Regions from separate parts of the Homo sapiens genome. Here region 1 is linked to region 2. A link means that fine-mapping ties the variant in region 2 to the expression of a gene that starts in the linked region. Tissue or cell type: activated CD8 T cells. Region 2 holds a variant in brackets; the other region holds the start of a gene. All regions are shown on one strand. Distances are from middle to middle.

Evidence for each region. PIP is the estimated chance that this variant, and not a neighbour inherited with it, causes the effect.
Region 1: ACSS1 starts here. The variant in region 2 is fine-mapped to the expression of ACSS1 in activated CD8 T cells (Schmiedel 2018, PIP 0.95).

The regions. Positions count from the first base shown.
Region 1 is chr20:25,056,690-25,059,371 of GRCh38, reverse strand. ACSS1 (acyl-CoA synthetase short chain family member 1) reads left to right here and starts at 1,233. Exons shown (of 14, transcript NM_032501.4): 1 at 1,233-1,603. The coding sequence starts at 1,270. RefSeq lists enhancers at 752-1,357, 2,008-2,137 and silencers at 978-1,507, 1,638-1,907.
Region 2 is chr20:25,116,134-25,118,815 of GRCh38, reverse strand. No RefSeq gene overlaps it. Among named protein-coding and RNA genes, the nearest start is that of VSX1, 35 kb to the right of the region's middle. The variant C/G (reference allele first, on the strand shown) is at 1,526.

The sequences.
Region 1 (2,682 bases), 59 kb after region 2:
GCAGGGGCTGGTGGCTAGCCCACGCAGAGGCTCCTCCAATGGCAGGCTCCTCCCCTCTGCAAGCCCTACAGCTCAAGGGAAAGAAACTTTCCCATCACAGAGAACTCAATAAACCAGTTTTCCAAAATCTCTCTTCCCTGTGTTTACCCGTTTGTTATGAATTTACTTCTTGGGTGTCAGAATATTTAAGAACTCGGTGGAGACCAGTTTTATACGTTTCCTTCTGTCCTTCCTGGCTCCACAGCTGCAAAAACATCATCCCCACTACTGAGCTTACTATGGGGCCACGCAAGGGTAGACGCTTGACAGACATTGTCCAATGTATTCCTTACTGCAGCTGCCCACCCCCGCCGTCCCCGCCCCCCAGGGAGACATTACTTCCGTCTTCCCCAAAAGGAAAACGAGGCACCGAGAAGTTAAGGAACTTGCTCAAGGTCACAGAGTTTGAACTCAGGCTACAGATGCTGCAGCAACTGGAGAAAGTCCTCATCGCCCCATATCACCCACCACCGACCCCCAGCAGGACGTGACCCCCGCCAGGACGGAGGCCGGCAGCTGGGGGGCTGGAGCATGGGACCCAGAACACGGACTCAGGCTTGCGCAGCCTCCTGGCTTCTAGGCGGGAGCCTAGAAAGGCGCCAGCCCCTTTCGCGTGCTGCTGAGACTCCAGGGGTGGGGTTCACTCTCAGGGGCGCACAAAGGCATGAAAACCTTGGCTTCAGCCTCTGAGATGCGGAACTGACCGACCTATTGTCTTGGGACCCACCAGTGCGCTTGGGTGCACCAGCCCCCTTAACGTTGGTGCCGGCTCCCTCCCGGCTCCTCCCCATCCCAGAGGGTCCCCTCGCCCCAGGCCCTGAGCCTGCGTCCTGGGGTCCTGGGCCGCACGTGCCTCTGGCAGCTCGAAGAAGCTGTCGGGGCTTGCAGGAGAGCGTGCAAACTGAAACCAAAACAGGCCGACTCGAGGAACATCCGGGTGGGACCGCAGACTCACCGGAGCGCAGCGCCTGGGCCAGGGCCTGGGACCCTGCTCCGCCCCGCGCTCCCCTGCACCCCTTCCCCACGCTGCTCCCCTCTTCCTAAGCGGCCCCCCCTCTCCCGGGCAGCAGAAGAAGGGGTGGGACCCGGGCGGGCTCCGGGAGGGGGCCCTGGAGGAATGGATGGTGGCGGAAGGGCGGAGCAGGGGCGGGGCCCGCGGAGACTCCACGGGGCGCCCCGGGCGTGAGGCACCCACTCTGGGAGCACAGAGAGCTCAGGTAGCCTGCCTAGATGGCGGCGCGCACCCTGGGCCGCGGCGTCGGGAGGCTGCTGGGCAGCCTGCGAGGGCTCTCGGGGCAGCCCGCGCGGCCGCCGTGCGGGGTGAGCGCGCCGCGCAGGGCGGCCTCGGGACCCTCGGGCAGCGCTCCCGCAGTTGCAGCAGCAGCAGCACAGCCAGGCTCGTATCCCGCGCTGAGTGCACAGGCAGCCCGGGAGCCGGCCGCCTTCTGGGGGCCTCTGGCGCGGGACACTCTCGTGTGGGACACCCCCTACCACACCGTCTGGGACTGCGACTTCAGCACTGGCAAGATCGGCTGGTTCCTGGGAGGCCAGTTAAATGTCTCTGGTGAGTGGGCTTCGGGAGACCCAGGACGCCCCCAACTCTTGGGTCCCGAGGGGACTCGGAGCCTCTCGCCAGCGGCAGCCGTCCCCGGGCAGCGCGGATCGCAGCCCTGCAGGGGCCCCTCCTCCGGTATTCCGTCCGCCCCGCCCGCTCTAAGCAGTGGCTCCACGTCACCCCGTCCCTCATCCCATCGGGCCCCAGATCCACGTGCCCAGCTCGGGCCGGCGCCCGCGGGGACCCGGCGGCCGCTTGGGACGCCCCGCTGCTGGCCTTGCTCGGCGCGGCTCCTCGCTCGGCGGACTCCAGAGTTGCGTTACCGGGTGCATAGCGCCGCTGAGCAAGAGCCGGCGGGGAGCCGCGGGCTACACCCGAGCGCCCCGGAGTCGGGACTTTCCCGTTCCCATACCGGGGTGGAGGGAAAAACAAAGCGGTGGCGGTTGTCACTGCGGGCTGCGGTGCCCGGGGATCAGCCTGGGGACAAGCCCTGCCCACGTAAACAAACAGAGCTGTGGCGGGCGACCTGGGGAGGAGGAAACTCGGCGTGGCAGCTGGAACCAGTTATTTCTTCGCTGCGGGCCTGGGGCCTGGGGCCTGTGGACGGGAAGGAAGTAACGGCGGCCTCCCCGTTCTCGTTCTCGGCCTCAGAGAACTGCACCCCAGCGACCTGGGGCCTGCTTTGGACCCGCGGGGTCTGACGTCGGCCCCAAACAGTTGACTGGTGGTCAGTTGTTTGGAACTTGCTGAGCAGAGGCCCTGCTGCTCTGCTAAGATTTGGGGCTGGGGGTCGTACACAGCACCCTCGCCCCCACCTAAGGCGCTGACTGGGCACCGAGGGGGAGGCCCTGAACTGCAGGCAGGGCTGGCCACGCAGGGTGGGTGCCAAGTGCGAGGTGGGCTCCGGATGCAGGGTGGGCCTGGGTGTGGGGCCTGCGGGGAGGGGCTGGCAGACACGGTGTTGATCAGAGGGATGCAGACCAGAAGGGTGGTCATAACCAGCTTGCTGGATTTGGGAGTGTTTAAGAAAGGACCTGCGGGTCTTTATGGCAGGGTCACCAGGGCCCCATTTTCTCCAACTCCTCCCT
Region 2 (2,682 bases):
GTGTGTCTGTGTGTGCACGTGACAGTGTGTGCATGTGAGAGTGTGTGCGCACATGTGACTGTGTGTGCATGTGAGAGTCTGTGTGTGCACATGAGAGTCTGTGTGCATGTGAGAGTGTGTGTGCATGAGAGTCTGTGTGTGCACGTGAGAGTGTGTGTGCATGTGAGAGTGTGTGTATGCATGTGAGAGTGTGTGTGCATGTGAGAGTGTGTGTGCATGTGAGTGTGTGTGCGCATGTGAGTCTGTGTGTGCATGTGACTGTGTGTGCATGTGAGTGTGTGTGCATGTGAGAGTCTGTGTGTGCATGTGAGAGTCTGTGTGTGCATGTGACTGTGTGTGCATGTGAGAGTGTGTGTGTGCATGTGAGAGTGTGTGTGCATGTGAGTGTGTGTGCGTGAGAGTGTATGTGTGCATGAGAGTCTGTATGAGTGCATGTGAGGATGTGCACGTGAGTGTGGTGGGGGCACTTGCTGACCTGTGGGTTTTCCTGCAGGTCATTAGGCACCAGGCTAGTGACCTAGGCCTGAGTGATCTCACATTTTTCTGTCATAATCACTCCTTTCTGTCTGGTGCCTTAGTCCTGCCCCCACTGCTGGATGTCTCCACCTTGGAAATGTATCTAAGTCATTTCTCCAGAGAAGACACTCCCACTTCCCGACGGCTGGGGGAGGATGGTTCTGGGGCCACTGGAGCCCTGACAGTGTCTTCTAGGCATCTGCTTGTTTCCCCTGCAGACTTTCCCTCTTAGCTCCAGCCTCATCCTGCTTTCCCTGGTACTTGGGGAGTCCAATTCCTGAGCCTTTCTGGGTTTCTGTGGCACACGATGACCCACATTTTAGTGGTGTCCCCTCCTCAGGAACTTGGGCCTTTTCTGTTCACGCTCTTTCCATCTTTGTTGACCTTCCTTGTCTACTGTTTCCTTTGCCTTTTTCTCCCCTCCCGTTTTCTTTGTCTCTGTGCATTTGTATACTTTTCCCTTTTGCTTTTATTTTGGTAGTACTTGGGGAAGCAATGAAAACAAAAACTGCTGCTCAATTTGCCACGTTTAACCAGTGCCCCATAATTATTAAGGGTCCTGCCGTAACCAATCAAGAGAATTTATCATCATTTATTTACCTGTAAAAGGATTTTCAAGTTGTTCTCAGTGTTTTGTTATGATAGCAAGTGCTTCAATAAATCTCCATCTAAATAGAGCTTTTTATTTCTGATAAATTGTATTCTTGGGCTGAATTCCCAGGAGGAGACTATGACTCCAGCAACTTCATGAGCTTTTTTCTTTATTTCTTTCCTTCCTTGTAGCCGCCCCAAGCTGAGGATGTGTTCCTGCCAGCCTTTATTATCACTTAGCAGTGATGGTACTATTTGTCCCCCAGTGTCCTCGGGGATGGGCCGAGGAGGGAGCAGGGCAGGGTTGGCACAAGGGCTCACTGCTGGAGAAGGCCAACAATGTGCAGAAAATGTGGATTTTGTGACAAGCGTGACACAGTGGCTGCAGAAAGAAAGGAACAGGTTGTGTGGGTGAGGA[C/G]GGGCCTCTGCAGTGACATTCAATCACTGGACATTAACAGGGGACATCTGTCACTGCCACTCAGTGAGGAGGCCAGGCTTGCAGCCCGGGATGACAATATGTTCTGGGGCTCATGATCACGTGAAAAATACCACTTTTGCAGAGGGTCCTTCCAGCGTTTGTGACAAATCCTTCTATTTTTATTACAGAAATCCCGGGCAAATCCTTCAGTCAGGGGACTTTCTATTAACACGCAGCTGGTAAGTGAAAAATAAAACAACCAAGAGAAAACCCACACCAGATCCCAAATAATCACATGCTGGCCCTGTGAGCACAGGGCAGCCAGGCAGATGAGAGCACAGCCCTCAGAGGTCCCTGCGACACGCGTTTGAATGGCACAGCAGAGACCATAGCCCCTCCGCCCACCCCTTTCCTGGAGCTGCGCTTCCCTTCCCTGTCTTGTGCTTCCTCCTTTTCTCTCAAGAAGGAGATTTTATCACATACTGGCTGCTCAGTCAGCACCTGGGGCACCCTGGAAAGACCCACCCCTTGTCTTGTCCTCCACCTGTGGCAGCTGCAAGCCGGTGGGCCAGGAGAATATTTTAAATGCAGGATAGCTTTTCCCTGCCTCCCTTTTTGCTTTTCTGAGGTTTTTCATTGGTTAACATGTTTGGATATTTTCTCCAAAATAGCAGTAACTATTTTTCCATGAAGTTCATCTTGTTTCTAAGGGCAGGTTTATTGAGGTATAATTGAAAAGCAATAAAGTTCACCCTTTTAAATGTACAGTTCTACGTGTTACAGCCATATAAATGCCAGTCTTGGAGGTTGACTAAGCCAAATGACCACTTGGCTTAGGTGGTCTCCTGGAAGCAGATCCTAAGGCAGGGATTTGGTGCTTGTGTGTTATTGAGGAGAAGGGAGTGAGCAAAGCTGGATAGGAGAGTGGAAGGAACCGAGCAAGGATGTGAGGGATGAATTGTCCACAGCAAGTCCTGCCTTGAGGAAGGGGCACAGCGGAGGACCCATCGGGTCAGCTGAGGGTGAGTGGAGGAAGCTGGGCCTCCAGGCATTTTGGAGCCAGGTGGTTCTGCCAGCCTCGGGCAGTTCTCCAGGGAAGGATGCCCAGTGAGCCTGTAGCTGCCAAGTCTCACAGCATCAGGGGTGTGTGTGTGTGT